Linked DNA regions of Homo sapiens: regions 2, 3 and 4 are each linked to region 1. Evidence: fine-mapped expression QTL. A gene starts in region 1. Each other region holds a variant in brackets. All regions are shown on one strand. Distances are from middle to middle.

Evidence for each region. PIP is the estimated chance that this variant, and not a neighbour inherited with it, causes the effect.
Region 2: its variant is fine-mapped to the expression of KRT77 in whole blood (INTERVAL, PIP above 0.99).
Region 3: its variant is fine-mapped to the expression of KRT77 in whole blood (INTERVAL, PIP above 0.99).
Region 4: its variant is fine-mapped to the expression of KRT77 in whole blood (INTERVAL, PIP above 0.99).

Annotation. Positions count from the first base shown.
Region 1 is chr12:52,700,034-52,708,139 of GRCh38, reverse strand. KRT77 (keratin 77) reads left to right here and starts at 4,616. Exons shown (of 9, transcript NM_175078.3): 1 at 4,616-5,248. The coding sequence starts at 4,706. RefSeq lists an enhancer at 6,374-6,543.
Region 2 is chr12:52,660,036-52,668,141 of GRCh38, reverse strand. No RefSeq gene overlaps it. Among named protein-coding and RNA genes, the nearest start is that of KRT2, 12 kb to the right of the region's middle. The variant G/A (reference allele first, on the strand shown) is at 3,504.
Region 3 is chr12:52,671,248-52,679,353 of GRCh38, reverse strand. KRT1 (keratin 1) reads left to right here. Exons shown (of 9, transcript NM_006121.4): 2 at 598-812; 3 at 1,131-1,191; 4 at 1,609-1,704; 5 at 1,874-2,038; 6 at 2,170-2,295; 7 at 2,859-3,079; 8 at 3,610-3,644; 9 at 3,737-4,618. The coding sequence ends at 4,161. Among named protein-coding and RNA genes, the nearest start is that of KRT1, 5.1 kb to the left of the region's middle. RefSeq lists an enhancer at 3,954-4,454. The variant G/A (reference allele first, on the strand shown) is at 3,372.
Region 4 is chr12:52,801,737-52,809,842 of GRCh38, reverse strand. KRT4 (keratin 4) reads left to right here. Exons shown (of 9, transcript NM_002272.4): 4 at 365-460; 5 at 993-1,157; 6 at 1,424-1,549; 7 at 1,979-2,199; 8 at 2,450-2,484; 9 at 2,593-3,294. The coding sequence ends at 2,774. Among named protein-coding and RNA genes, the nearest start is that of KRT4, 8.3 kb to the left of the region's middle. The variant C/T (reference allele first, on the strand shown) is at 3,894.

The DNA of each region.
Region 1 (8,106 bases):
AGAGATCAAAGAAGCTTCCTAAACTCTGCTGTCCGGGACTTCCTTTTTTATGTTATCACAATGGAATATTTTCACATTCAGCATGACAGTATATAGAAACCTGGGCGAGTGCTGAACAAATTCCACTCAAAGACATTGCTGGAGCCCTCTGTGACCGAAGCCAAACTCAGGCCTCAGGGTTTCCCAGTTGCTCCCTCGAGGCAAGGGGGCCTCTTCATGGCTCCCCCATCCCACCCCCTCACATGCCCGTTCCTTTCTCTAGGCCTTGGCACGAGCAGTTTCTCTGGTCCTTCCCAGTCCCAGTCCCTACAACAGAGCACCCTCTCACTGGCCTACAGTACATCCTTCGAGGTTAGCTTGAGCTTGCCTTTGCTTCTGTGAAGCCTTTTCCAGCTGCCTGTCTTTCTAAAAACTCTCATCGCATTCATAGGTCTCAATGCTGTAGCCACAGCCACACAATAACACCTCTCGTAAGAGCAAGCCTTTTAAAATATTTGTTGTCTTCAAGTGCTCTATTTAAGGGTCAGATGAATAGCGTTCAGGGAACTCAGTGATTAGTTCAATCATAAAACTGGTACATGGGGGGAGCTGGGCTTTAACTCCAGGGGCACTTAATTGTGGGGCCCAAGCTCTTGGTTCTCTAAGCTGTCCACGTCTCTTTACTTTAGCTCAGTCATGAAGGCCTTTGTTATTGGCCCACTCTGCCCAGCAGTTGCAGGAAGAAAGGGGCTCCTGGTCCATGAAGTCTTGTCCCAACAGCAAGGAGCTTCCTGTTTGTTTAGGTGGCAGTAGAGACAGATGCGAAGGGGTTAATTATGTGTATTCTTCATGAGGAGGAGGTGGGGTTGAAAGTGAGTGGTGCAGCCGGAGAGAGAGGTGGGTTCACAGGGAGGGGTTGGGGAACAGAACCTCACTTGTGTGACTCCTTGGGGCTTGCAAAGTGCTCTTCCATATTTGTTCATAGCCATTCATTACTATCACTCTACAAAGCTGTTATTTTATATATATATATATTTTGAGACAGAGTCTCCCTCTGTTGCCCAGGCTGGAGCACAGTGGCGCCATCTCGGCTCACTGCAACCCCTACCTCCCAGGTTCAAGCGATTCTCCTGCCTCAGCCTCCGAAGTAGCTGGGATTATATATTTTTGTGTTTTTAGTAGAGACGAGGTTTCACTATGTTGGCCAGGCTGGTCTCAAAACTCCTGACCTCAGGTGAGCCACCCACCTCTGCCTCCAAAAGTGCTGGGATTACAGGTGTGAGCCACTGTGCCCGCCTGGTTACTATTTTCTTTATTTTAGAGGTCAGGAAACTGAGGTTCAAGGAGTCAAGTGTCCCAGCCATGGGGCTAGGAGGGGGCGGAGCCAGGAGTCAGAGCTGGGTTTCAAGATGCCCAACTCAAGGATCTGTTCGCCACACCACTGCTGTTTCCTGTCTGGTACTTACTGTCCCTTCTCCTATCAGCCCCCATTTTCTCAGCCAGACCCCTACTTCTTCCCCCTGCTCTGTTCTTTCTGCCTCTCCTCTGATATCTGACTCAGAATCCTGGTCTTCAGGCAGCTTTCTCACATGAACCCACCCCTTTCCCTAGCTTCACCTCTCTTTCCTTCCTCTGCTTCTACTGGTTCTCTCCTTGTCACTCTGTGCTGGAGGCTAGGCCCTGGCTTCCCTCTCTTACCTTAGGGTTAGGAGTATGGCTGTGTGGACCATAGGTGCCTAGGACTAGGGTGACCAACTGTTCTGATTTGCCCAGGTATATCTTGGTTTAAGTACTGAAAATCCTAGGCAAAGCAGGACAGCTGTCATCCCACCAGGATCTGTGAGCAGCTATTTCTGCTTGTTTAGTGATTCCAGTGCTCTGCTTTTTTCTCCCCACATGACTTATATATAGCTTTGAATCCTTGAGAAATAGACACTTTGGTTCCTTAAGTGTCTGAGAGGCTCTAGGTTCCTTAAGTGTCTGAGGCTCTAGACACAACCAGCAAGCAGCAGAGCTTCTGCCTATAAATTTCAGGCTCATTGTCTCCTCTATCACACAGTGTCTCCTGGATGACCCACTGAACAGATACCATGTACGGAATGCAGAGGTTCATGAGAAGAGGGTGTGGAAGCTTGGAATTGCCCTTGGAGCATTTCCCTGTACCAGGATGACTTTTCACTGCGGCGCCCCCACAGTGCTCTTGTTTCTACCACCTGTTCTTCCCCACCTCTATTGGGATTTCTGCCACAACTTTCTTTTTTTTTTTGAGGTGGAGTTTCACTCTTGTTGCCCAGGCTAGAGTGCAATGGTGCAATCTCGGCTCACCACAACCTCTGCCTCTTGGGTTCAAGTGATTCTACTGCCTCAGCCTCCCAAGTGGCTGGGATTACAGATGTGCCACCATGCCCGGCTAATTTTTTGTATTTTTAGTAGAGATGGCATTCTCCATGTTGGTCAGGCTGGTCTCGAACTCCTAACCTCAGGTGATCCGCCTGCCTTGGCTTCCAAAAGTGCTGGGATTAAAGGCGTGAGCAAAAAATATTTATTGCAATGAACATAAAGAAAAAGGACATTTAAAACACCAGGAAAATTCAGCCGGGCACAGTAGCTCACGCCTGTAATCCCAGCACTTTGGGAGGCTGAGGCAGGTGGATCACCTGAGGTCAGGAGTTCTAGACCAGGCTGGCCAATATGGTGAAACCCTGTCTTTATTAAAAATACAAAAAATTAGCCAGGCGTGGTGGTAGGCACCTGCAATCCCAGTTACTCAGGAGGCTGAGACAGGAGAATCGCTTGAACCCAGGAGGCAGAGGTTGCAGCGAGCCAAGATTGTGCCACTGCACTCCAGCCAGGGCAACAGTGCAAGACTCTGTCTCAAAAAAATAAGCAAACAAACAAAAGAACCTAGGAAAACTCCTCCCACAGTCTCTAAATAAATCAACTCACTTTCTAGTTACTCACAAAGTCTGTCTTATCTGCATTTTTTTTTTTTTTTTTGAGAGAGGGTCTCATTCTCTTGCCCAGGCTGGAGTGCAGTGGCACGATAAGGGCTCACTGCAGCCTTGACCTCCCAGGCTCAAGTGATCCTCCTACCTCAGCCCCCCTGACCCGTGGGAGCTGGGACTACAGGAGTGTGCTACCACACCTGGTTAATTTTTTGTATTTTCAGTAGAGATGGGGTTTCGCCATATTGGCCAGGCTGGTTTTGAACTCCTGGGCTCAAGTGATCTGCTTGCCTTGGCCTCCCACAGTGCTGGGATTACAGGAGTGAGCTATTGCACCCGGCCTTCTGCATTCTTAATTCTTATGAGTTCACAGCGCAGACTCCATCATGTAGTCTGCCCTTTCCCTTTAATATGGTACATAGTATCACAAGTGGTTGCCGGTTCTGCTGCAGAGTCTCCAACAAGATGATTTAAAATAATTGTATCCAATTGGGCAAGCCATCGCTTAGCCATTTTTCTAAGGCTGGAGAGTTTTTCCCCAAGTTAAAAAAATTATTATTACATTTTGGATGAAAGCCACAGCTATTTGAGTCCAGAGGGAAAACGCACATTTTTTTGTTGGCGGACACTGATGCTCACTGAATGAGCTTTTCCCCAGGATGCTGTCTGGGACGTGCTTCTCAGAGGGTGAGCACAGATTAGTGCTGGTCTACCGTGCTTTGCTATTGCCTTGTGGTAAGCACAGAATTTGAGAGTAACCATTTAGAAAATTATTATTATTGTTGCTATTTTTAGCAGTTAAACAATGTTTTGTTTGCTGAATCTAAAAATAAAAAAAATTTGGGCTTGCATTTTGTATATCTTTTTTAAAAAATTATCTTTAGGAGGTAATTCCTTTAATTCTATTTTACAAAAGTATTGTCTATAAAGAACCGGAAATGATAAAACAGAAAGAGAGATAGTTAGGGATGGTTTGTCTTCTGGTCTAGAAGACAATATTAGGTACTGGTAGATGCTCAACAAATCTATAACCACAGACTTTTGGTGCTGAAGTACCTTGTGTGGTTTTGTGTTTGAGAAGTCTGAGGCTTATCAAGCAGCACACAATGTGAATGACCTTGGGCAGAATCTGTGGGCCTCCACTTGTACTCAGTGACCACAATATTGCACTTCCATGTGATAAAATTTTGGGTGCTCATGGTGATGATAACTGCAGGGAGCAGAAGCAGTGTGTGGGGAGATTGGAACAAAACTTTTGCCCCACCAGGACGATGCTGTGACAGAAAGTGTTTCCACCTCTGTCCCAGCTATGGTCCTGAGGTCTCTAAACACCATCTAACTTTGCCCCAGATCTCCCAGGCACATCCCAGAAACAAACAACTCGATGGTGGAGTTTCTTAGGAAGAGATGAACTGATGATTTGGGGAGAATCTGTATAGAAGTTTCCAGCAATGAGATCCTGAGAGATTCTTGCATTCTGATCTCTAAATGGCAAGAGATGAATGATAAATGATCGAGTTGGGGAAGTTTGTCTGCAATCTGATTTCTGCAACTCACAGGTGTGAGGTTTTAAACAGATGTTGCTGGCAGGCAAACTAAACATTAATACTCCCCTTTCAGGATTGTAAAGGTGCCCAGCCCAGTAATGTGTGTGTGTGTGTATATATATAGAGCCGGAGCCAGATCTTTTCAAAGGAGTCAGAGCTCCTTTCCTCTCTGGTCTCTGCCTCCTTCCTGCCAGGCTCTTTCTCTTGCCTGCTTCTCTGGATGCTCCAGCAAACATGAGCCACCAATTTAGTTCTCAGTCCGCGTTTAGTTCAATGAGCAGGCGGGTTTATAGTACCAGCTCTTCTGCAGGCTCTGGTGGTGGGAGTCCGGCAGTGGGTTCTGTGTGTTATGCTCGAGGGAGGTGTGGTGGTGGTGGATATGGGATCCATGGAAGGGGGTTTGGCTCTAGGAGCCTCTACAATCTGGGTGGCAGTAGAAGCATCTCCATTAATCTAATGGGGAGGAGCACCAGTGGTTTCTGCCAGGGTGGGGGAGTAGGGGGATTTGGAGGGGGCAGAGGCTTTGGGGTTGGCAGCACCGGGGCTGGTGGCTTTGGAGGAGGTGGTTTTGGGGGTGCTGGATTTGGGACTAGCAATTTTGGGCTTGGGGGCTTTGGTCCTTATTGTCCTCCTGGGGGCATCCAAGAGGTGACCATTAACCAGAGCCTCCTAGAGCCACTTCACCTGGAGGTGGACCCTGAAATTCAGAGGATCAAGACCCAGGAGCGGGAGCAGATTATGGTTCTCAACAACAAGTTTGCCTCCTTCATTGACAAGGTGAGCACCTCAGGGGCAGGGAGGGTCATTGGTCACTGACCAAATGACTGAGAGAGATTACACCTTACCACCTCTCACCACATCGTGCTGTTTCAGCTTGACCTGGGACCTTAGAAAATCATTTACCCATTTGGGCTTCAATTTGTCTTCTTGCAGGGATTTAATTCCATCTTTTCCTTTTGGCAGGAAAGGAGATAAGCAGTGTTAAAATACTCAACAGATACATGGTGTAGTACCCTCATTCTCATTCATAATTATTCACTTTCCATCCACCCATCCACCCATGCACCCATCTATCCATCCCCATCCACACAATCCATTTATACACACACACACAAACACACACACACACACACACACACACATCCATCCATTCACTTATTCATCAATCCACCCAACTATCCACCCTTCCGTCCATCCATCCATCCACCCACCCATCCACACAATCCATTTATACACACACACACACACATGCACACACACACACGTGTTCATCTGTTCATTCACTCATCCATCAATCCATTCAACTATCCACTCATGCATCCATCCACCCATCTAGCCCACAAATATTTTCTAAGAATCTATGATAGGCCAGACATCGTGCCAGGTGCTACAGGTGACTAGGACACAGGTCCTGCCATCAAGGAGCCCACGTCTAAAGGGGAGAGAATTACTACAGTGTATGTGAAGTGTGTCAATAGGGGTAGTACTCTCTGGGCCATGGTAGCTCAAAGGAGGGTGTCATGAGCTCTGCTTGCTGAGTCTGGAAGGCGGATGAAAAGTTAAATGGGTTCTAATTTTAGTATATGTGCTGCCGAAGTGAGCACGAGTTAAATGGGTTCTCAGGGCAGAGGGGATTTTCAGGCAGAAGGACCAGGAGGCATGAAAGCGTGACGCGTTTAGGGAATTTCAAACAGTTACAATTCCTGGAGAAAATGGGATACCAAGGGGTGGAGGAGAGAAGTGGAGATGAAGCCACAGAGCCAGGGCAGGAGAAGCAGGCAGGGCATGGTGAATGCCCTGGTGGTGGGTATCTCTTGGGGCTAAAGTCAATAGCATGCAATGTAGGGTTCTGTCTGAGTTTCCCCTTTTGGCTCATCAAGGGCCAAGGATGGGCCAGATGGAGACACAGAAGCCCCTGTCCCTAGTTCCCTGTTGAAACTTCAGATTAGGTCCAAAGCAGCAGCAGAGGCTGGAGAACTCGCCATGGTGAAGACCTCCCTCCAGCATCTCCTTTTGTCTGGAGGTCGAGGCACAGCGGCCACTAGCACCTCCCCAGGAGGAACTTTGCCTTCAGGGATGCAGTGGGAAGCCCCACAGAGCACCAAGGCCGCTTGCACACTCAGTGACTTTCCCTCAGTCCCCACGGGAGTTCAGTGCTGAGGCCAGAGCTTGACCTGTGGCCTGACTGCAGGGTAGCTGTGGCTAGAGGCCATACTGGGTGGCAGGGCAGGCCTCTGATATCTGAGCAGATGCTGGGGATGGGACAGTGTGTGAGCGGGCGGAGGAGGGTGAGAGTGCTGAGGCCCAGAGGCTGCCGAAGAGGAGCGCAACACAGCAGCGTGCTCCCGTGGCTTCCGATCATGCTGCGTGGGAAATTTGGCTGAGTATCACCACGCTTCAGGCAAAGGCAGGGGTTAGAGGGTTTCACTGGAGCAAGGAGTCACTACTCGGAGGTCACGGCTGGGCCAAGAGAGGAGCAGGGAGGAGAAAGGGCTGGGAAATGACCACAGGCCGCTGGCAACTGACCTCCTGAGGCTCATCTGATTATGGCCCCTGCCATGAACAGGGTCTGTCCAGTTGCATGGCATAGGGCAGTGGGCAGAGGCTAGGGTGCAAGAGACCTGGGCCTCCTGTCCTTCGAAGGGCATGGCCTATGATGACTATGAGGAGAGGCTTCTCAGCCAGGTGGGCTGTGGCCTGGCTGGAAGGAAGAAGGCTTCTATGACAGGTGACTTCTGACTCTGCTTTCCAAACTGGTCTTCCTGCTTTCACCCTTGACCCTGTATAGCCTATACTTGACACCACAGCAGAGCCATCCTTTAAAAGCATGTCACGACACTCCTCCATTTGAATCCTCCAGTGGCTTCTTGTCTCGACTGAAAGAAAAGCCCAAGTCCTACAAGGCCCTATATTACTTGCCCTTCAACCCGCAGCTGCTGCTAAGCCCACACTTGCATTTGTGGAATCAGGCCACGTTGCCCTCACTGGGTGGAACAGCTTTCGGGATACAATGGCTAGTAAGCAGAGTGAGGCCTGGAAAACAGCCCCCAGGCTTCCAACTCATTGTTGTCTGCAGCCTCCTGTGCCCCTCTGCCTCCTCTCCTGCTCTCTTCTTGCTCACCAGCATCCAAGGCTCAGTTCTGTCTCAAGGTCTTTGCACCTACCATTCCCTCTGCATGGAACTCTTCCCCCGAGAGAGAGGCCCACCTTCCTCCCTCACCTTCTGTGGGTCTTTGCTCAGATGCCACAGTTTCAGTGGGGCCTTCCCTGACCACCACTTCAGTGTTCCTATGCCCCGGCCCTGTGTGACTCCATAGTCCCTGCAGCCATCTGAGGCACTGTATTTTTTACATGATTATTTCTTTATAGTAATCTCTCTAAATAGAATGCAAACTCCTGGAAAGCAGGGATTTTGCCTGTTTTTTTTATTACCAAATCCCTAGCACCCAGAATAGTGCCTGACATATGAGAATTGCTCAATAAATAGAAACCGGATGACAAATTGGGTCAGCCCCTCAGGGGTCAGTGCTGGACGCTCAGAGAGTGGAAATGGAGCCAAAGGCTTTCTAGAACCAATGACAAGGGGACAGGGCCTCAGAAAGGAAAGGAGGGTTTCAGCTCTTACCCCTGGGACA
Region 2 (8,106 bases), 40 kb after region 1:
TTGGGTAGGTGGCGGGGAGGAAGTGGCACTATAGGCCCCTTCCCTGGTGAAGGGGGCATGGATAATAGTCTGACTACAGTTAGAGGCCAGAAACGTGGTCTCTAAAGTTGCCTCTTGGAGCCGCAGTGGGCTGGAGCCTTGTGCTGGGTGAAAGGGAGAGTGAAGATGCCCACGAGATGTCTGGGCGGTGCCAGCAAATTTATTTGTTTGTTGAAAGGTTGGATCCTCAGAATGCCCTGGGATGCTCTGTGTCACCGTGTTTGCCACTCCCATATCTGCTGGAGGGAACCTGACACTCCCTGCCAATCCATTATCAGAAATATGGCGCAGTCTTAGTCAACTTGCGACCTTCCCAAGTTCATGCGGGTTTATCCCCACCCCTCCCAGGGGCCCACGCCCGATTTCCAATCTGTCAATAGGCCCTGCGTATTCTCTCTAGGCAGTATGGAGTGTCCTCTGCTGGTACAAAGGCTTCTCTACATGCAATGATGGTACCTGTGATGGTCACCACAACGCAGCGGCTCCCAGGGAGGGTGAGGATGAAGATTACATCCTTTGGATATTTCAGAAAGCTTACTGGGAAAAATAGAAACAAAAAGACTTCTCTTGATTCTGTTCACAAGTTGCAAAGACATAAGGAAGCAGCTAAATCCTTCCTGATACAGAGAATCTTTGATCGTGGGAGAAAGCTCTTTTCTCTGGGTGTTGAGCTCAGTCCTGAGCATCTTGGAAGTTAAAGTGACCCATTGAAAAGCTAATGTGAGCACAGAGGCAAAAACTAGAGCAGAGAAAGGACTGGAAAAAAGATCAAGGAAGACGGCTGAGGGTGGGGTGTGATGATTTCTTTCTTTCTTTCCTTCCTTCCTTCCTTCTTTCTTTCCTTCCTTCCTTCCTTCTTTCTTTCCTTCCTTCCTTCCTCCCCCCTTCCCTTCCCTTCCCTTCCCTTCCCTTCCCTTCCCTCCCCTCCCCTCCCCTTCCCTCTCCTCCCCTTCCCTCCTTTTTCTTTCTTTCTTTCTTTCTTTCTTTCTTTCTTTCTTTCTTTCTTTCTTTCTTTCTTTCTTCCTTTCCTCTTTTTTTTTTTTTTTGAGACAGGGTGCTGTTCTGTTGCTCAGGCTGGAGTGTGGTGGCACAATCTCAGCTCACTGCAGCCTCAACCTCCCTGGGTGCAGGCGATCCTCCCACCTCAGCATTCCAAGTAGCTGAGACTACAGGCACACGCCACCACACCTAGCCAATTTTTGTTCTTTTTTAGAGATGGGGTTTTCCATGTTTTTTAGAGATGGGCTTATCATGAACTTCTGAGCTCAAGTGATCTACCAGCCTTGGCCTCCCAAAGTGCTAGGATTACAGGCGTGAACTACTGTACCTGGCCAATGGTCACTTTCAATGAAGATAAACCACACCATAGTTTGTAGGGAAGAGAGTCAGCCTCTTCTTGCTTGGAAGTTACAGGAGTCACTCTAAAGAAGAACTTTCACCCCGGCCCAGTTGCCCCACAGTGCAGGAGCTGTCTTGTGAGAGGAGTTAAGCTGACTTGGAGAAACAAGTAGAAGGGTCTTTCCCAAGGCAAGGGCACTTGAGCAGAGAGTCCAGCCCTGGTTCGGAAATTGGACCACTTCCAACCTGGAGATCCCAAGGCTGCCTTCTTTCCCCATTCTCCTTACAAGTCCTCCAGATTCTTCTTTCTCTTTTTTTTTTCCTTCCCAAGATTCCCAGACTCAACTCCCAGAATATTTTGAGCAGTTATTTTAAAAAGCATAAAGGTTTGGTTCTGGTTTGAGCTGATCTTATAGGTGTTTTGGTGAACATTTATGTTTGTTCAGTTAAAAAATATTGGAGTTCAGTTCTTGAGCAGGGGTTGTTTATGGTGGATTTGGTTCAATCCTGGTCAATTTCCTGTTGTGTACACCCTGTGGGGGTGTTGACAGGCGGGGGTCTGTCATGAAGGAGAGGCCAGCCTGAGGCTGCACATGCAGCCCACCTGCCTCAGCCTCCCGAGTAGCTGGGACTACAGGCATGTGCCATCATGCCCGGTTGCCATGCAGTTCCTTATAGCTTTAGAAATTTTCCAGCTTTGAAGGAGCTATGTCTTCAGCCACCTCATAAGGATGTTTAAAGGGGAGGGGTGGGAAATAGTCCAAATGAAATTACTAGGATGTATTTTTTATCCTTACTGAAAAATTGCACAAACAGCATAGTAACCATATGAAAGAAAATTAAAATGAACAGAAAATTCACCTCAACTAAGAACTATTAAGTTTCCCTTTCCATTCTAGACCCTCTTCCTACGTAAAGATGAATGAATGCAGCTGTAACCAGAAAGTAAGTATAATTATTAGCATGTATTTTAATATTGATCATTAACATTTTCTTCAAGGTCCAGCTAAATGCCAGAACTTCTGTGACTCCTTCTCTCTCCCGTGGGGAAAAAAACATTCTTTTGTGTTCCCATCCCATTTTGCCTGCCTGTGTCCTGGCATTAATAACATAATATAGGTAGCTGCAAGTATGTCTGTTCCAATGATTTGTGTTGTCCTAAATGGGTGAGTGGGTGGGGGGCATGCCTTATTTATTTCTGATTATTTCCGACAAAATGGGTTAAGAATCCCGCAACAAAACAACACATGGGGTCCTTCATTTTGGGCCCCTTGGGTGAGGAATGTTGTCCTAGAAAAGCACATTCAAAGGTCTGAAATGTGCATTTATTGGCTCTACTGGGTGTCTTTTCACCTGCCTAGACCATATTTCCTTCGGTAAAGGGGTTATAATGGAGCTGTCTCTGGCAGGCTGAGTTCAACTGGCCATCAGGAGTAGCTATGTCTGACCAATCCTGGGCCAGGGAGGGCCCTTGGTGACCATACCTACCTAGCGAGACAAGTAACTAGCAAGGTGAGCGGATAGGGACTGGGAGGATTTAGGGCCCAATCTCTTAGGAAAGACCTCAGGGGGTAGCAGTTCTCCTAAGTGGGGTCCCTGGGTGGGGTGGGAATATAGTCTATCACATGCTTCACCAGTGGAGAATTTCTGATGGGGCGAAAGTGGATGTCACAACAGTAGGTCCTAGGAGAACTGGACAGGGAAAGCTAAGTCAGGATGGCCTCGCCTCTGAGGTCTTTCTAGGGATGCCCTGGGATTCTTGACTTCAGCAAGTGCCTTACTTTTTACTAGGGAGATGAGCAAAGGGCCGTCGAAATTCAGCCACAGCCATAGACAGGTGCTGCCAGCTATGCCCTTGGGACGAGTGGCCTTTGGGATAGAAGACTGGGTGTCATCTCTTTAAGACCTGTCCTTAAGGTCACCAAATATAGAACAGGATGATTAAACATGCATGAGGACATCTGACCTTAGTTTAAAACCTTGTTTGGTATGATTTCTCCTCAAGACAGCTGTCCTTTGCCCAGACACCTACAGACATAGAGAAGATTCTCCTGAGGTTGCATGGGACAGAGGCCGGGCCCTGTTGGGGTGAGCTGGATGGAGGCAGGCTGGAGGCAGGTGGCAGG[G/A]CCATCAGAGTCCCGGCTGAGAACGTGCACAGGACACCTGTCATGGGCATCTGTTAGAGGTTGAGTGTCAACCAGTTTCTCATCTGGGTCAGGCTTAGGGGAGAGGGTACTGTCATTCTCCAAATACACCAAACTTTTACACATGTTTATGCTGTTAGGTCTTTGCAAATGTCTCTCCATTTTCCTGGAGTTCCTTTCTCCCTTTTCTGTGTGTAGACTCGAATTCATCCTTTAAAAGCCAGTTCATAGTTCCTCCTTCCTTGACTCCTGCCTCACTTTTCCATTTATGTTTCCTTGCTTCTGGCATATGATGTCCAGCGGTGTCCTGGAACCCTCCCGCACCAGCTTATGAAAGCCAATTGCCTGCTTTTGTTCCTAACTCCATGTTCAGTAACACCGTGTTGATTGCTTGAGATCAACCATGGTAGGTATATTTACTCCACAGAAATGAGTGCCTATGGAATAATGAATTTCTTGAGGACAAGGACTGTGTCTTCTTTACCTTTTCATCCTGAGGATGCAGCAGAATGTGTATTCTACTGCAGTGATTAGTGAGTTTTTGTTGGTCAATGAACTGGACAGAGTAAGCACTGGAGGAATACAGGAAGGAGGGGGCCACATCACACCAGGGTCATCAGTCAAGGGGAGAGAACATCTGAGTTGAGTTGGGTCTTGGAGGGTGGGTTGATGGTAATTTGGGTGAAGTAGGTGGGATCCCTGGGGATGTTACCAGTTCCAATGCAAGGGAACTCTTGTTTGGGAAGAAGATCCCGTGAGGCAAGCTCCATCTTGGCTTGTAGTCACCTGTCTGCATGCAGAGGTGTGCATGAGACAAGGTCTGAGGTGAGGCCATCTTGCCCCTTCCCTAGCTCTAGGTCCTTAATTAACCTCAATTATATGGACAGTGGGAAAGTGTGTGGCAAGGCAGGTTCTTAGCTTAGCTTTCCAGACCCAACAACCCAGACATTCCTACCCTCCACATTCCTACTCTGTATGCAATGGAGTAGTTGGTTAGTCCCTCTTGTTATCAGTCTTAAGTTTCTGCTAATGCCAGCACAGTTGATTTCCTTCTGTTCTACACCTGGTGGAGCTGGAAGAGCATTTTAGGCAAATGGAGAACATGATATCTGCCTCCATGTCCCTGAAGGAAGAACAAGCTGATCCTGTAGTTGTAACCATTCATTATTAGCATTCACAGATGAACATTTGGTTGTCTTCATTCACACTGTGCTAACTACTAAGGTGTGCTTGGGATCGGAGAAACCCCGCTGGGTTCCAAAGGGAGTGCCCTGTTTTTGGCTGCCTTCTTCTCAGTAATCCTCTCTCTTGGCTTGGTAATGGATAAACAAGGTTTCCATGATGAAGACATAAGGCTTTGAGGAAAGGTGGTGTGGCAGGAGCCTCATGCCACCTCATTGGCACTTCTGACCTGCCATGTGGCACCATGGAGGGGTGCACAGCTGGCAGGACCTGGGCAAATGCAGTCTGTCCTATAGCAGGACAGTCATCAAGCTGTGGTTACTAGGAGTCTGATAAAACAAGGATTGGACCATCTTGCCCCTGTAACCACCCTATTAGCTCCTTTCCTGGCCATCTGCAGGGATGTGAATAGGAGGAGCAGTTGGTCTGATGCCTTAACAGCCCTGGGGGAAGTGTGGCAATGACAGATTTAGAAGTTGTAAAGGACACAACTCCTATTTGCTTCCTATTTTCCATTATTATGGGTAATTGAGCGTTGACTGCAGTATTTATTAAGCCCCTGACTTTGGTCTACCTGAGGCCTTTTCTGGCTCTGAAATTCAGTGCTGTCAGGCTGGTGTGGCGAGGTGGAGGAGCTGCGGGGCTGGGCTCCTGCTCTGTTACCCTTTATTCATGAGGCCTTGACAAGCTCTGAACTCAGTGTCTTCATCTTAGAAATGAAGATGTCAGCCACAATGGTTTCTACCATGTCTTTGAGCTGTTAGCACAGATACCAGAGTAGGGTGGAGAACCTGTAGGAGGGCAGAGCACTCTCACTCAATCTTTGCATTGGGAACAGGGAATTAGGTGAATGAGGGTGGGGAGGGCAGAAGTGGGGCTCCCAGAAGGATGTGGTTTCTGAGTACGTTGGGCCAAGCCTTATCACCACTCGTCTTGTGATCTCAGGCAGGTCTCTTCACTCTCTCAGAGGCTCAGTTTGGTCATGTGTGAAATGAGATAACATTTGCCCTAATTACTTCAGAGGGAGAGTGTCAAAGTGAAATGACACATGCAACAGGGACCTGAAGTAATACATGAAGGGAGCGATCATCAGCACTGCTGCTCTTCCTTGAGAAGGCACCCAAGGGTGGGAGTGGGATGGGGCCAACGAGCAGCGGTGCAGCCTGGGTACGCAGGAAGGACTGCTTCCTTGGGGGCCAAAGTGGGGTCCTATGCTTCATTCTTTTAAAAGAAATACCCATTCATGAAGGGAGGGCTTATATCCTAAATCCATGGCCACTGGCCTTGTAATGAATGGCCACTTAGTGCCTGAGCAGGGAGCAGCGGACCACCAGTTGGGAGCAGGACCGGAGACAGCGGGGGAGCTCCAGGGCATAGGGTTAGGGTGGGCTTGTAAGCTAAGGAAAGAGGTGCATGATCAGGTGGCAAGATGCAGGCTAGGAGATTGTGGCAATAACATAAAATCGACGTAATGTTGGAAGTTCTAGACACTTACTATAACTTCTACAGATAATGCGAAAGGAGAAATATTTGCTTTGTGCTAGAAATTGTGCTGTGTCACATAAATCACTTATTTCACAGCAACTCTGAAGTACTACTGTTGACCTGTGAACAACCCAGATTTGAACTGCACCACTCCACTTATATGTGAATTCTTTTTCAGTAAATATGTTGGAAAAATTTTTGGAGATTTGTGACAATTTGAAAAAACTTGAAGATGAACTTGTATCCTAGAAACATAAAAAAATTAAAAAAAAGTTAGGCATGTCATAAATGCATAAAATATATGTAGATACTAGTCTATTTTATCACTTACTCCCATAAAATATACACAAATCTGTTATGAAAAGTTAAAATTTATCAAAATGTGTGCACACACGGACTCTACATAGTGCCAAAGTCAAGAGAAATGTAAGCAACTGTAAAGGTGCATTATTAAATCATAACTGCTTAAAATTAACTGTGATACATATGTGCTACTGTAATCATTTTGTAGCCACCTCCTGTTGCTACTTCAGTGATCTCAGGTATTGCCATTAAAACACTGTGTGATGCTAGTCATCTCCACAAGAGCAATTAGCTCCCCCAGTAAATTGCTTATAGCAGTAAAAAGTGATCTCTGGAGGTTCTCGCATATTTTTCATCATGTTTAGTGCTTTACAGTAAACCTTGAATAACACCATGGGACCCATGCAGAGTGGCACTAGTGATGCTGGAAGTGCTCCCAAGAAGCAGAGAAAAACCATGACATTACAAAAAAAAAAGCTGAATTGCTTGATATGTACCGTAGATTGAGGTCTGCAGCTGCAGTTGCCTGCCATTTCTGACATGATAGATAATTCATCTTGCAAACACATGATGTAAGCTTATGGTATTGATAGATACAGTACAGTACTGTAAACGTGTTTTCTCTCCTTATGATTTTCTTAACAACATTTTCTTTTCTCTAGCTTACTTTATTGTGAGAATACAGCAATAACATATATATAAAACAAACAAAATATATGTTGACTGCTTATGTTATCAATAAGGCCTCTGGTGAGCAGTAGGCTAATAGTAGTCAAGTTTTTAGGTAGTCAAAAGTTATATTGAATTTTCAACTGCAAGAGGGGTCATGCCCCCTAACCATTCGGTTGTTAAAAGGTCAACTCTACTGTTACCACCACTTTACAGATGAGGAAATGGAGGCCACAAAAGGGTAGGTAACATTTCCAAGGCCAAGAGGCCAATAAGTGGTGGGGCTGGGATTCAACCCAGGTGTGTTGGACAAATCCATGTCCTTAACCAGTACACAGGCGGCCTTTGCTTGTTACAAGGCACCATGCAAGGATAATTAATTGTGATATTAGGTTGGTGCAAAAATTATTGTGGTTTTGGCTATTACTTTTAATTACATTACTCAGCTTTTCTTCCTAAACAGAAGATCCCTCTCAATGTTTTCTCTTGGGATACTGTAGTCACTTTTTATATGAGGACAGAAGGCAAAGAAAAGACTCAGGGGACAGGCAGAGGGCCCAACAGCCCAGTGTTGGAAAGCCTGGGTTTTCCACCAGGGTAGAGCAGGGCAGGTCTGCCTTGAACCTGGCCTCAGAAGCTTCCTTCTCAGTCCTCTTTCCTTCCATCAGCCTGGGGAGAGTGATGAGGAGCTGTGCCCCCTGGTCCTTTGAAGGGACCCTGGTCATCTCTGGCAGGGCCTGCTGCTCCCCATCAATGCCAGGCAAAGAGCTGAGTGCCATGCGCTGCTGCTGAAACACCAGTGAGGAAACATAAACTGGCGTCTCCCAACCTCATCATCAGGTCTCACCCCAGTCCTGCCCCTCCCTTGCCTGGCAGTGCTCTTTCCTCTAGCTCTCAGAGGAACCAGGGGGAGCCTGCTCACCCCTTGACAGACGATCGTTTGGGT
Region 3 (8,106 bases), 29 kb after region 1:
GTAGCAGAAAACATGTGGTCAGTCAGTGCCAAACATCTTTTGCTGTCAGAGGGGAGCTCTGCCTTCTAATAATTTTACATTGGTACTGGATGAGGCTAGAGTTTTTTTATACTAATATCTCCAAAAATCAGCTCTAAAAAACTCAGATAAACCATTTTTTTAATTTTTTGCTTAATCATTAATAGTGCCAATCCAAGGTTATCCACAACAAATTTCAAATCCAATTTTGAATTTTCCTGATATACTTTTGAAATGTGTGTGTGTCCTGGGGATGCAAACCAGTTTTTATGGTAATATACCTAACAAAATTTTGGAAGGCAAATCTCTTAAATACCATGCACCTATTTCAAAACATAATTGCAATAATTCTGTATGCGCTTTGCTATTGGTATTTGTTTAGTTACTCCCTTCCAAGCCCTCTCTGAATTAACAAGTTGGGTTTTATTATGCAGATGATATTAACTTGATCATCTTCTTCCTATTTCTCTGTCATGGTCAGAAGATAGGAATTGAGGTTCTTTTCCAAATGAGGCACAGTTCTCCATGGCTATGAGACTCCATTTATGCATCAGGAGTAAAGGGGTCTTGTGTTTTTAGGTGAGGTTCCTGGAGCAGCAGAACCAGGTACTGCAAACAAAATGGGAGCTGCTGCAGCAGGTAGATACCTCCACTAGAACCCATAATTTAGAGCCCTACTTTGAGTCATTCATCAACAATCTCCGAAGGAGAGTGGACCAACTGAAGAGTGATCAATCTCGGTTGGATTCGGAACTGAAGAACATGCAGGACATGGTGGAGGATTACCGGAACAAGTAAGGGACCCTGTCTGGGCAGTTCTTAACTTTTGCTGTAAAAGAGTTCCAGAAAGTAATAAGCTAAGATCATGAAGCAGCATGTAGCTATGTCTTTTCTTAGGTTAGAGGCACATCAGTTTGACATTTTCAGAAATCTTCATTTTCTCAGGAGATGGAAATAGTCTAGTGGTTTTATTGCTCAGTAGAAAGTAGTGGCCAATATGTCCTAGGTTCATAATAGAAAGGCAGTGATAGGCAATGCCACCTTTAGTTTAGAATGCTGGACTTCAGGTCTTACCACCTCTGAATCTCCTAATTGTTTCTGCTTTCCTGCAGGTATGAGGATGAAATCAACAAGCGGACAAATGCAGAGAATGAATTTGTGACCATCAAGAAGGTAAGCAAATTCTGTAGGACGGAACTCACATTTGAAATAAATAAGGGAAGAGGGTCTCCAATTACTAAGCAGAAAGCAGCCATGATATGGAGAGCCAGGTAGTAGACCTGGGGAGTATATGGAGTGGGGCTATATTTTCACATCATCATGGACCTGGACTGATCCAGGCACTTGGCTTCTCCATATTTCCCAGCACCTTACATAGTAAGTGGAGTGGCAGATTCTCAGCAAGCCAGGCACACTCCCTTGATGGTGCTATCCGGGGGTGGGACAGTTAGGGAACTGTGATTTACCTGGGGCAAAAAGGAGTGGAGTAGACCCAAAGCTCCTTTTTTTGCTTGGAGAATCCCCTCACAGGTAATGAGAGGGACCTGCCCTGGAGAGAATGTGCCTTCATGATGTCCCTTGTTCCTCTAGGATGTGGATGGTGCTTATATGACCAAGGTGGACCTTCAGGCCAAACTTGACAACTTGCAGCAGGAAATTGATTTCCTTACAGCACTCTACCAAGCAGTAAGTCTTCCAGTTTCAACCAAGTTTATCTAAATGGAGAGTTTTTAAGCCTGAACCCACAACGATTCAGAAGAATAGATATTTATCTTTTATTTTCTGACTGCTTTCTCTGTCTAAGTTGTTTTTTGTTTTAGTGCTGTAAGAGTCACTAACCTATTATGTCTTGCAGGAGTTGTCTCAGATGCAGACTCAAATCAGTGAAACTAATGTCATCCTCTCTATGGACAACAACCGCAGTCTCGACCTGGACAGCATCATTGCTGAGGTCAAGGCCCAGTACGAGGATATAGCCCAGAAGAGCAAAGCTGAGGCCGAGTCCTTGTACCAGAGCAAGGTGAGTGGGCTGAAAGCCTAGCCAGTTTCCCTGAAATGGCTTGTCTTGCTATCCTGTGTTATCTCATGTATGTGTGCCTGTGCCATGCTGAGTTCTGCCTACATTTAACAAACGCTATCTACCATCTTTAGTATGAAGAGCTGCAGATCACTGCTGGCAGACATGGGGATAGTGTGAGAAATTCAAAGATAGAAATTTCTGAGCTGAATCGTGTGATCCAGAGACTTAGATCTGAAATCGACAATGTCAAGAAGCAGGTATGTGCTTTCTCCTTCTACCACTCAGCTGTATGGAATGGGGGTAACCCTCAGGTAAAGGGCGAGTGCTTTCCTAGTTTTGAATCTTGCAATTCATCCCAAGGCTACATTATTATCCCTGGTTCCTTTTGTGACTATGCTAGTTTCCAGAATGCAGCCATCATGCTGGGTTCTCTTTAGGGAAATCTGTGAGAATGGCCTAGTAGAGAAAGATGGGATGGTCAATGTGAGTGATCTAGCCTATGACCCAAAGTGGACTTAAGAGTTGGGGAGTGAGAGGAAGGGCAGCCAGGAGGTTTTAGAGTAGGTGTTTAGAAGAATGTCAAGTCTGTAAGGGTTGTAGGAGCCTTGACTCAGGGCCAAGAGAGGCTGTTGAGTTATCCCTAAGGTCTTTTAAGGAAGTCAACATGGTGATGTGTTATCTGGAGGTGGGTGTGAGATGACTTAAGGCCAAGTGGTTCTGTTGGACTCATTATTGGCCTCACTGGAGTGGGGAGACCAATTGGGATGAGGAGGCCTAGTGGGGAATGCATATTATGAGAGGGTGTCATATTCTTTTTCAGATCTCCAACTTGCAGCAGTCCATCAGTGATGCAGAGCAGCGTGGCGAGAATGCCCTCAAGGATGCCAAGAACAAGCTGAATGACCTGGAGGATGCCCTGCAGCAGGCCAAGGAAGACCTGGCCCGCCTGCTGCGCGACTACCAGGAGCTGATGAACACAAAGCTGGCCCTGGATCTGGAGATTGCCACCTACAGGACCCTCCTGGAGGGAGAAGAAAGCAGGTGAGGAAGGGACGCTGGGAGTCGAACCTCTTCTCATGGTCTTCCTTCCTTGCAAGCTGATTGTTGTTGAAGATGCAGCCATCTGATTGCAGCTTGTGCTGGGTATGGGGAAATGAAAAGTACACGGAGCAGGAGGAAGGACCTAGTTTTACTTTGGGAGCTGGAGTCCCAAGCTGTTTATTTTTTTCTTCTAGGGCTGTAACATATCTAGAAAGAGCTTTGAGGTGGAGCAAATTATTCTTTATCTGGGCTGCCTCAGATGGCAGCTGGCCTAAAGTCGGCATCTTTAGAG[G/A]GGGCCTTCATTGGCTGCAAGGCTCTTGTCTCGTTTATATGGGAATTTCTCCGTGTTTGTACTCTTGCTGAGAAAAAATGACAGGTCTGGGAGGCCAGAGGGGATTGGATTAAGTTTCAGATTAAGTGCATTGGAGAAGACCCAGATGGGGAAAGTCTTCAAGGTGGTGGAGCGGGGAATGGGGAAGCGGTTTGGGAAGCTGGAGTGTCCTGAGGAATTTTCTTATTTTCTCCTACAGGATGTCTGGAGAATGTGCCCCGAACGTGAGTGTGTGTAAGTACAAGTCGATTTCTCAGGGGCATGTGCAGGCTTTGTTGGGCTGGAAACGGAGTTGAGGTTGAAAATAACTGAGCTTCCTCTTGCAGCTGTGAGCACAAGCCACACCACCATCAGTGGAGGTGGCAGCCGAGGAGGTGGCGGCGGTGGCTACGGCTCTGGAGGTAGCAGCTATGGCTCCGGAGGTGGTAGCTATGGTTCTGGAGGTGGCGGCGGCGGCGGCCGTGGCAGCTATGGCTCCGGAGGTAGCAGCTACGGCTCCGGAGGTGGCAGCTATGGCTCTGGAGGTGGCGGCGGCGGCCATGGCAGCTACGGCTCCGGAAGCAGCAGTGGGGGCTACAGAGGTGGCTCTGGAGGCGGCGGCGGCGGCAGCTCTGGCGGCCGGGGCTCTGGCGGCGGGAGCTCTGGAGGCTCCATAGGAGGCCGGGGATCCAGCTCTGGGGGTGTCAAGTCCTCTGGTGGCAGTTCCAGCGTGAAGTTTGTTTCTACCACTTATTCCGGAGTAACCAGATAAAGAGATGCCCTCTGTTTCATTAGCTCTAGTTCTCCCCCAGCATCACTAACAAATATGCTTGGCAAGACCGAGGTCGATTTGTCCCAGCCTTACCGGAGAAAAGAGCTATGGTTAGTTACACTAGCTCATCCTATTCCCCCAGCTCTTTCTTTTCTGCTGTTTCCCAATGAAGTTTTCAGATCAGTGGCAATCTCAGTCCCCTGGCTATGACCCTGCTTTGTTCTTTCCCTGAGAAACAGTTCAGCAGTGACCACCACCCACATGACATTTCAAAGCACCTCCTTAAGCCAGCCAGAGTAGGACCAGTTAGACCCAGGGTGTGGACAGCTCCTTAGCATCTTATCTCTGTGCTGTTTTGGTTTTGTACATAAGGTGTAAGCAAGTTGTTTTTCTTTTGTGGAGAGGTCTTAAACTCCCCATTTCCTTGTTTTGCTGCAATAAACTGCATTTGAAATTCTCCATGTCTCGATCGCCCTTGTTTACGGCACTGTCTAACCTGGATGGGTGTTTTGTGAGGTAAAAGAAGACACTAGAGCCACATGGCATATGGGAAAGTCATGCACACAAACATGAGAAAAATGCAGAGGCCAACCAGGCAACATTTCACCAGACTGGAATCACAGAGAGAGCAAGCACTTTCCCAGATGGTGGGGATGTCATGGAGAAATGGAGAGACCGGGTGACAGGTTTTGTTCATTTGAGAAGGCTTTCTTGAAAAGGGCAGTGAGCAAGCAGGTTGGGAGGAAGAGGTGTGGCATTGAGAAGAAGGGAAAGTATTGCATGAAAAAGTAATTCTTCACGTGGAACAGCCAGTAAGGAGGGGCATGAGTAATATAGGGTCAGCAGTTACTGGAGCCAGAATACAGACTTTGGCCTGGGGAGTTCAAGAACTAAGAGTGGTAATAGAGAGTTGGATATTCCATTTCCCTTCTCTTTTTGTGCCACCACCCAAAGCTCTGCATAATCTAAGAAGTTCCCTTGTTGACACATAGCTCATACTTGTGAAGTTGTACAACAGGATAGCATAGTGGCCAGAAGCATGGACAGTTGAACTCAGATATGCTTGGGTTTGAATCTTACCATCACCATTTACTAGTTCTGTAATACAGTGCAAGTTACAGACATCTCTGCACCTCAGTTTTAGTATGTCTAAATTGGGGATGATAATGCCTTCCTTGTGGGAATAGTGTGAGGATTGAATAAGATGAATACACAGGGCTGAGCACACAGCAAGCACTAAATAAGTGCCAGTTTTAATGATAATGGTGATGATGATGATGATGATGATGATGACGTAACATTGCTTGTGGGACTCCATACAGCTCAGTAGATGCTTGCTCAAAGAAGCAAGTTACCAAAATTTTTGTAATGGTTCTCTGAACGTGAAAAAAGCAGTCAACTTCTCTGAGGATCAATTTCCTTAGTTTCCAATTAGGAAAAGTCTTCTTAGCTCCAGAGTCCCACAGGGCTAATGGAATAAGGAGAGGATAGATCACACATGTATTATGCAAACACAACTCAGGTGAGCTCTATTCTTCCTTCTCAGTTATCCCTTCTGTAGGGACCCCAGTGTCCCCTGCTGTCTTTCTGTGTCCTGACCGGGAAACACAGTGTGCCTTGTCTACTCCATCACTTGGCCAGCTGCATGCTTTCCTTTGCAGGCTTGAAGCAAAGCTGGGTCTCGGGCATTCTCAGGCACTGACAAAGCTGTTTAGTTGTTGCTGGGAAACACTGGGAAATAGCCCTTTTGTTAAACACACAGAAACTAGCCTTCGCCCTGAGCCAAATTCCTTAAACTCGTCTATGAAATTCCATAACCTGACTCCTTAACTGCAGACATACCCAGCTAGAACATCCCTCATGTCCCTGTCCACCGTGAGAATGCTGCACTTCACTCTGAACCTTTAGTCCTCCTTTTAAATACTGCACACTGATCACCCTGGTGTTTAGTGCTTTGTTTTTTGGAATCCCACCTGGCTCCATTTTGGGATGGTTCCGGGCACTTCCCTATGGAAATTCCCCTGCTGTCACTGTCAGAGTGAGTCCAGCAGTGGGTTTAGCTGGATGAAACACCACCATGTCCATTTCCATTCAGACTAATGTCAGAATTTGAAAGGCACTATGGTAGAGTAGAAAGAACAAGGAACTGTACTATTTAAAGGGCAGGCAAAGAAAAGGCATCTATAGCTTATAAGATGTGTGGATCTTTGGATGTGACTTGGCCATCCTGAGCCTAAGTTGTCTTGTAGGAGAAATGGGAATGAGAATATTTTCCTCTAGACATCAAGAGGAAAAGAAATATAACGTGAAAACCTTTGTGAATTGTGAATGTGTTATACAGAGTAGCTAAAAGAATTAAAAAGGGAGTGACAAAAAAGTAAAAGGCAGCTGGCTGCTCAGGGCCTCCATGGAGGGAAGTACCTTGATATGGTCACTGTGGCTCAGTGACAGCTCTGCAGGGACAGGAAATTGATTTGTTAGTGCACCCAAAGTTGAATCTGCTCCTGAGTACTGATTTATGGGAACCAAACACACAAGAGATGAAGGATGTGTCAACCAGAATGTCCAGCATTAGCTTGTGGGGAAACACATACTTCCAGTGACTGAAATACCATCCTGTTATCAAGAGATCTGGGAAACTAAAGTACTGACAAGAGCTGGCTTGATCTGTGGATTTAGAACAATGAGAGTTAGGTGGCCTTGAGGGAGATGATTCACTCTCCTTCACAGAAGAGCTGACCTCTGGGGTCAACAGATATAGCACCTCTTTCCCAGGGACGCTACTGAATGAACAGTGATGTGTTCTTATACTCTGGCCCAGATTTTCTACATACTTTCTTAGGTTACAACTTTATTTAGTCACATTTCAGTACTGGGGATACTCCTGTTTATCTTCTTTGGACTCGAGTTTTTATGGGAAGGTCATGAAACAGAGAAAAATACAATTTGCAGGGAAACTTACCAAGGCTTGTAAGGTTACAAGGATTAAATGAAAACCCTGTGTAAGTCAGTATATAGTGAAGAAGTAAATTGAGTTAGACCAAACGCCAAAATGCATCCACATTAGAAAGACGATAAAGGAAGACTCTGGATTCAGTTCTGTTCAAAAAACATTTTCTGCACAAATACTATGTATGAGGAACTGGGCGTTGGGGAGATGATGATGAGTGAGACATGGTTCTTGCTTTCAGAGAGCCTAGAGACCTGGGTGGTAGCAATGGTAGAGATACATCCAAGACACAGAAATAGATATACAGGAACACAGATGATTGAAAGTGATGCTTGGCAGGGCTTTAAAGAATGAATCAGAGTTTTTCAGGCAGACGAGGATCTTCAAGGCAGAGGGAATCATATAGATAAGGACATAGAAGAGTGAAATTTCATGAAGTAGTTAAGCATCTGAAGAAGCATGGAATTAGTGACAAGAAATGATGCGGAAAAGATATCCAGATCCAATCAAGAAGGGCCTTGTTGGCATTCTATGGAGTCTGGACTTTGGCTTCTGGGTCACAAGTTCTCAGATGGGGTTTTCATATCTATTATTAGACCTACTATGTACTGGTCCAGTGGAAGGGAAAGGGGTTGTCTTACTGCTAGTGGAGTAGGAATTGGGTATGGACCACAGCTTGTCTTGTTTCCAAGTATTCCCTAAGAAATCTGGTCTGCTGATGGGAGATCTATTTATGGAAATGTCTTTTTCCCTCAGGAATTTTATGTCAGAAACAGCTGTCATAGGTGAGGAGGAACTGGTAAAAGTACTTAATAGGAGAGTGTCATGGTCAGATTGGTGTTTTGGAAAAGTCAGCCAGGGCAGATTGGAGAGGTCCATATTGGAGGCAGGAAGACTTAAGAGACTATTGCAAAGGTGAAGACAAAAGACGATAGGGACTTGCACTTTAATTCCAGCCCTTAGAAGTAGTAGAAGGTCAGAAATGAGAATATGCA
Region 4 (8,106 bases), 100 kb before region 1:
TGGTATCTTTGCTATTGTGAATTGTGCTGCGATAAACATGAGTGCAGGTATCCTTTTGTTACAATGATTTCTTTTCCTTTGAGTGGAATTCCAGCACTGGGATTGCTGGATCCAATGGTAGTTCTATTTTTAGTTCTTTGAGAGATCTCCATACTGTTAGAATAGCCTATTTGGATAATCAACTTCCATGTCTTCAGGTGGCTCTAGGGAAGAATATATAAAATAATTGGTCTCCCACCAGCTCCCCTGCTGCTGAGTAGTCTTTCCTAAATGCTGCTGAGAACACCTGTCGGTGTCACTTAGTAACCCGTCCTCCTACTGGCATTCCTGCTCCTCATCTCTTATCCTCCTTACTCCTCTGCAGGACGTGGATGCTGCCTACCTGAACAAGGTGGAGTTGGAGGCCAAGGTGGACAGTCTTAATGACGAGATCAACTTCCTGAAGGTCCTCTATGATGCGGTGAGGGCTCCATCCTCCCCTCCATCCAGGGAAAGGGAATCCCCCATCTGTGACGCTGCTGGTTGGGATTCACAGTTTTTTGAAAGGACTCCAGCTCCCTTATTTTAGGGCAGTGGGTTCTCATCAAGGTCATGCATAGAAAGGTTTGAAGTGGGAAATTCAACTGGGAGATTCTTAGAACCAGATGTGGTCTTGGTCTTAGACGGGGTGATTAGATCTAAAGAGTGCTTGGAATAGAATTCATTGCTGTCTAGCATTTTTTTTCTGGTGAAATGGATCCATTCCCTTCCCTTCCATTCCAACACACCGGCACTCACTGCATTAGAGTGGCTTATGGTTCCTGGGGACCAGTAAAGACTAGAAGCATTGCTCTTCCATCCTGAACTGTCACAACCACTTGATTTCTCCTTAGAACTTTACCTGTCTCTCCCCTTCCTACACATTGTGAATGCCAGCTCTGCTCCTACTTGAGCCTGTATCAGGTCAGTGAAGGCTTTCCTGGGGGGGCTGATGTGAGACATTTGCCCTGCAGGAGCTGTCCCAGATGCAGACCCATGTCAGCGACACGTCCGTGGTCCTTTCCATGGACAACAACCGCAACCTGGACCTGGACAGCATTATTGCCGAGGTCCGTGCCCAGTACGAGGAGATTGCCCAGAGGAGCAAGGCTGAGGCTGAAGCCCTGTACCAGACCAAGGTGGGTGGTATGGATCTCTCAGGAGATGGGGCTGGCTCTGGGGCTCTGCTTTTGATGTCTGTGAACAGGTGATCATTAGCTCAAGCCCAATAGAAGTCAGATATGAACAGACTCTCCCAGGCATCGTTGGTCCTGGTCTGATTTGAAACTACTTGACATTTGGTGCTATTCTTGCCACCTGTGGCAATTCTCACTGAGTTCACTTGAGAATGGACCCTACCCAAATGCCCCTAACACCTGGTTCTCTGTGTCTTCTTGAGTCTTAGGTCCAGCAGCTCCAGATCTCGGTTGACCAACATGGTGACAACCTGAAGAACACCAAGAGTGAAATTGCAGAGCTCAACAGGATGATCCAGAGGCTGCGGGCAGAGATCGAGAACATCAAGAAGCAGGTGGGTGTCACTCCCTTCCAGATGGAGCACAAGGCCAGGGGCCTCAGGCAGACATCTCCAGAGTGGACAAGCAGATAAAGCATCAGGCCAGAAGACCCTGAGCTTGTTGCTGGGAATTCATAGCTCTTTGTGCAAGGCATACCCAGATTTTTTCAGCAATATCCTAGTTGGCACACCATGACGCTCCTGTGCATAGGTTTCTTGGCTCTTCTTCATGGGTTTTTGCTCATTTTTATTTAATCAGTCTGGTGGAGGCATTGGTGGGCTATGGCTGGAGTGAATGAGATGCATAAGTCTCAGGGAAAGTGGGCAGAACAGATAGAATCTTGACATCCTAACCCAAGGAAAGCTGGACCAGGGGAGGGGACAGGTGTAGAGGCCTTGAAGGCAGGGCACTGCTGACCACCTATCTAATGCCTTTGTCAATAGTGCCAGACTCTTCAGGTATCCGTGGCTGATGCAGAGCAGCGAGGTGAGAATGCCCTTAAAGATGCCCACAGCAAGCGCGTAGAGCTGGAGGCTGCCCTGCAGCAGGCCAAGGAGGAGCTGGCACGAATGCTGCGTGAGTACCAGGAGCTCATGAGTGTGAAGCTGGCCTTGGACATCGAGATCGCCACCTACCGCAAACTGCTGGAGGGCGAGGAGTACAGGTGAGGGGTTAGGCAGGGTGTGAACATGAGGGCCAGAGAGGTCCAGGGCCATGAGCTTATTTATGCCTCTGCCGGGCTGCAAGCATCAGTGTTGTGCCGGTGCATTACGAACCAGGACAGCTCAGCTAATAGGTTCACACTGGGCCCTCAAACTCAGAGGCTGCTCAAGGATAAGAGAGGTGAGTGAGGCATGCTTATTGAACAAAATTCTGTGCTCCCTGAGGCTCACCGCCTTTTCTTTCCCCTACAGAATGTCTGGAGAATGCCAGAGTGCCGTGAGCATCTGTAAGTACCTTCCACGCCTGCTGTAGTTGTTCATTCACCCGGGTCTTGCCAGACCCCTGGGGTGCTGGCAGCATTGGAATAACTGTGTCTTTTGTGTCTTTTCTGCAGCTGTGGTCAGCGGTAGCACCAGCACTGGAGGCATCAGCGGAGGATTAGGAAGTGGCTCCGGGTTTGGCCTGAGTAGTGGCTTTGGCTCCGGCTCTGGAAGTGGCTTTGGGTTTGGTGGCAGTGTCTCTGGCAGTTCCAGCAGCAAGATCATCTCTACCACCACCCTGAACAAGAGACGATAGAGGAGACGAGGTCCCTGCAGCTCACTGTGTCCAGCTGGGCCCAGCACTGGTGTCTCTGTGCTTCCTTCACTTCACCTCCATCCTCTGTCTCTGGGGCTCATCTTACTAGTATCCCCTCCACTATCCCATGGGCTCTCTCTGCCCCAGGATGATCTTCTGTGCTGGGACAGGGACTCTGCCTCTTGGAGTTTGGTAGCTACTTCTTGATTTGGGCCTGGTGACCCACCTGGAATGGGAAGGATGTCAGCTGACCTCTCACCTCCCATGGACAGAGAAGAAAATGACCAGGAGTGTCATCTCCAGAATTATTGGGGTCACATATGTCCCTTCCCAGTCCAATGCCATCTCCCACTAGATCCTGTATTATCCATCTACATCAGAACCAAACTACTTCTCCAACACCCGGCAGCACTTGGCCCTGCAAGCTTAGGATGAGAACCACTTAGTGTCCCATTCTACTCCTCTCATTCCCTCTTATCCATCTGCAGGTGAATCTTCAATAAAATGCTTTTGTCATTCATTCTGAGCAATGGTCTTTTTTCCCTGGGGAGAGGTCTCTAGAATCCTGTATAACTAGATAATTTTGGTGAAGGTGTATGCTTGCGGGTGTGAAGGATCTGTTTATACAGATCTGGGTCATCGACTAGTTTCTCAGGTCTCTACTTCTAAGTTACTCAAATTATTGGGGGAGAAGTACAGTGTACAGAGGCTGAAGGTTGCCTACAGGGCAGTTGTACAGATTGAAGGGGCATCCAACAATTATACACACATTGTCCATTGTAGGGCACCCTGGGGTAGCACCATTTCAATGCTGATCCTGGAATAAACCTGGAGGGAAGGGGTTTAAGTCTGCAGGTGGGGGGCATTTGATAGGTGTGAGAGAAGCAGGCCAGGGGTCTCTGCTGAATATAGAGCAAGAAGTTATGGAGCTTATGAGAGTGCTTATACTCTGTGTCTAGCAAGGCCTCCCTATTTTCATGAAATTCCATGCATGGGGCTAAATCTCACTGGCCCAACAAGGCTTTCAGGAACCTGTTCCAAGAATCAACAAGGTCACGGTTGTTGGAGGGAGGTGTGCATGTGTGTCATTCTCCTAGAGTTTTCATGAGCTGCTCACTT[C/T]CCCAGCTCCTCAGGGGTGCCTGGGGTTATGTCTGTGGTGCTGTCCCTGAGTGGCGAAGAATGTTGGAGGTGGAGCAGGTCTTCTGGAGCAGGAGTGGAGGGAGCTGTCTAATTACAGAAGCGGGGAGAGGACAGTCAGAGGTGGGGGTCTGGGTAGATTTGGGGACACCCTTTTTCTATATTGGACCAATTCCAAGTACCTGGAGCAGCACAGTCTCCCCTCTTCCAAAGATTTCCCAGCTCCTGCTCTGCAGTCTGACTCGAATCAGTTTGCTGCAGATGCAGAATGCACTCTCTGCCTTGGCCACCCTACTGTGCCTCCCACCCTTGACTGCCGCAGAGTTCATTCAGACTCCAGTTCCTCCAGCCCTGTGTCCATGGGGCCTCATGGTGTGCAGGCAGAAAGGCACGTCGTTTGCCCAAGACCAGTCCTTGCCCATGGGAGTCTCGTGCAGATCCAAGGTAGGCTCAGGGTTGTTCTGCCTTTGGGAAAGCGGGGACAGAGTAGCAAAGGGTTAATCTCAGGGGCTTGTGCTCTCTGGGCAGGGGACTTTGCCAGGAGCAACCTGGGCTCTGTCCTTCATCAGCCTGGCCCTAATATCCCCATTGTCTTAGGGCTCATTGAGCCCCATGTGTCAGAACAGGAAGTCTCTGCAGCTGCATTTGGTGGCTTTGGCTTCTTCCAAGGGCTGCACTCCTCCCCTGGCAAAATGCAGATGGGCTCTTTTTTTTTTTTTTTTTTGAGTTTCTGGGAGTGGTGAGGAGGAGTTAAAGGTTGGAACTAGGGGTGGAGCTTCTCAGGTTCACCCACCAGGAGGCTGCAGGTTGTGTTGGGCCTCACAGAGAGGCAAGGGGCAGGTTAAAGCATTTCTCATGCCCCCTGAGTGTGGGAGCAGCCAGCCTGAGCAGCCCTCCGTGCCTCTCAGCATCTCTTTGGTTGAACTCAGTGATTTACACTGCAAGGTCAGGCCGTAGATTATACGCGTGTATGTGCATCTTAGAATAAATGTGTTTGTATTCATAGGCACATGGCTATGTGAGTGTGTCAGCGTTTCTTATTTATATAAAAAGTCTCTTAGGTCGGGCACGGTGGCTCACACCTGTAATCCCAGCATTTTGGGAGGCCAAGGGGGGCGGATCATGAGGTCAACAGATCGAGACCATCCTGGCCAACATGGTGAAATCTCGTCTCTATTAAAAATACAAAAATTAGCCTGGTGTGGTGGCAGGCGCCTATAATCCCAGCTACTCGGGAGGCTGAGGCAGGAGAATCCCTTGAACCCAGGAAGCAGAGGTTGCAGTGAGCCGAGATCACACCACTGCACTCCAGCCTGGCGACAGAGTGAGACTCTGTCTCAAAAAAAAGTCTTCTATTTTACATAAAAAGGAAAAGCCCTCATGTTGGTCTCTGTTTCTAGAACAGTCCAGGAGAGTGGATCCTGGCCTTGATTCATATGTTTGAAACTGGCTGGCTAGTCAGAGGGGATTATTTGGGGTAAATATACTGCTGAGATAATAGACACCACCCTTCTCTCTGATCCTTCGAATTGGATTCTGGCCAGCTCCTAGTGCTTAGGAAACAGGGAGACATGGCTTGCATTATTTACCCCGTTGGAGGCCCCATGCTCTCCCTTTTCTTTTAAATCCTTTACCTCTAAGTATACGGAAATCACTTTTCACATCTGAAGAGCCCAACTGCAGGTTGGCAAATCTCTAACTTGGTTTATTTGGCTCATCTGCCCTGACTCCATTCCCCAAGATCTTGGCTCCCAGCCCTGGCTGCAGCCCCACCATCACTTTGGCTCAGGCACCTGTCAACTCCTGAACAACTGCTATGTTTGCATAGATCCCTCCCACCTCACCAAGACCCTCCGCTCTGGGTTCAGCCCTCTCAGTTCCAGAAAGTTCTCACCAATACTTCTGAAGTCTCCCTACCTCGTTGCTAGTAAACCCAGAAGGTTATAGCAAAGAGGGGCTTATTTCATGTCCCACTGTGGGGTTTTGTTTTAACTTGCTGACGGGGCCCAGGCTTTGTGTTCTAAGACCAGAGGACCTCAGAATAAGGCATGGCTGCTCCCATGTCTTGGGTGGATGTTCAGGGTTTAGTGAGACAGCTACGTGGGGAAATAGTTGAGGGGGCTGTGCCCCCTTTGTGGGCCCTCAGGACATGGTAACAGTGGGCCAACGAGGGACAAAGGGAGGGAGCAGGCTGAAAGGAAAAAAGCCATTTTAGCACCTGTTCCATTTTTTTTCCCGTGTTGATGGTAGGGTCTGAACAGTCATCTCGTTATTCCACTAAGAGGGCTGGGAGTGTAGAGTTGTGGCCATGAAGGGTCTTGGTGGTGGGAGCCCCAGGACTCAGGCTCATTGCTGCCCATGGTTTTCTGGTTTGGCTTTGGGTCAAGGTAGGATTGTTCTGCATCTGCAGTTTTTTTACTTTGAGTGTTGTGGATTTGATCCTTAAAAATTCGAGAAAGTGGGTGAGAAGCTAGATAAGCTGGGAAGACATTTTCTGGAGAAAGTGTTTGGACTGTCATTTGCCATCCACCCATTCATCCATCTACTCATCCATCCGTCCATCCATCCATCCATCCATCCATCCATCTATGATCCATCCATCATCCATCTATTCATCCATCCATCCACCCAGCCATTCACTCATTTACTCAACAAACCACTAGTCTATAAATTATTTATGGGCAGGAACCATGACTTTATTCATCTTGACATTCCAGGGCCACTGTGCTTGCCATATAGTAGCTGTTTAACAAATGTTAATTGAACAATGTTTACCAAGTGCCTAGTTTGTGCTGGGCAATGGGGACCCATTATACAAAGAAGAATTAGACTCTGTTTTCAAGGAGCTTTTAATACAGATGATAATGTCTAGATAAAAGCATGCACATAAAGAACTTGGTAACCAGACAGACAGATGAATGCCTTTGGAAGTTACAAATGAAGGACATGACAGTCCAGAGGGTAGCAAAATTACTTCTAGTCTAGAGTGAGGGGTTGGCAATCACAGGAGGCTTCATGCAGGAGGCGGTATTGAAGTGGGGTCTTGAGGAAGAAGCAGGCCCTAGATGCTAGAGACAGGGCAGGTGCTCTTCTTACAGAGGGCAAGATTCTGATACCTAAGAGGAGTCCTTTCGTCTAGAAGTCTTCTAGGAGTGGCTCCACCCCTTTGGAATATCCTGCTGTTCTGTCTCCCTTAGGCCTCCTCATACTGGATTTTGGTCACACTCCTTTTTCTGTGTCGTGTCCTGTGAAGCTGCAGCATTTCTCCCATCGGGCTGGTAGCTCCTTCTCCTGTGAATCCACCACCCAAGAGCACGGCAGGGGCAGTTGCTTCAGTTCGAGAAGCATTGTTGAGCACCTACATTGTGTCAGACTCTGTGTAGGGCCATGAGGATATAAAGCTTATTGCAGCGTGGTCCTCACCCTTGAGAAGGGCAGAGTTTAATGTGAAAATGGTGAGTGAGTGTGGGGAGTGTAGACACATTAAATACACATTTTCCATACTTTCAGGAAAATGTTAAAAGCAATGGTGTATGCAAGCACTGAGACTCTGGAAGCCTAAGGGAGAATCATTTGCTTTTGCCAGGGATTCAAGGAAGTCTCCCTGGAGGAGGTGACAGCTGTGAAGTCAGCCATGTAAAAGGGGTGTGGACCTGGAGCTTGCAAGAGGGGTGCAGGGGAACAGGGTGCTCTAGGCAGCAAGAATTGCAGAGTAAAGACAGGGAAGTGTGGCTCAGTGCAGTACCAAACCAAAAGCAGCTTAGCATCACTCAAGACAGGGCAGGGAGTGGTGGGAGAGGACGCTAGAGAGCAAGGTTGAGGCCAGGATGTGGAGGGCATGGGTTGGCCCATTGTCCAATTTGTTTGGGGTTTGGGCTTTATGTTCTAAGACTAGACAAGCTCAGAACAAGGCGTGTCTGAGAGATTAAGCTCAGAAATGGATGAGGAGATAGCTCTGGGCCACCTGCTCTCAGGGTGTGGCCTGGAGGCCCATGATGTGCTTTGAATTGCAGTCTGGGAACCACCACTCTGCACCTCCCTCCCCTGCCACGCAGCTGTAATGCTAAGCCTTGCCATGGCCATGCCTCCTTTCCCACTCTTGTTTCCTATGAGGGTATGTTTCCAGGAATGAAGAGGTTTGCTGTCATTCCTTTGTCTCTTGGCAGAATTGTCTCTCACCCCACACGCTGGCATC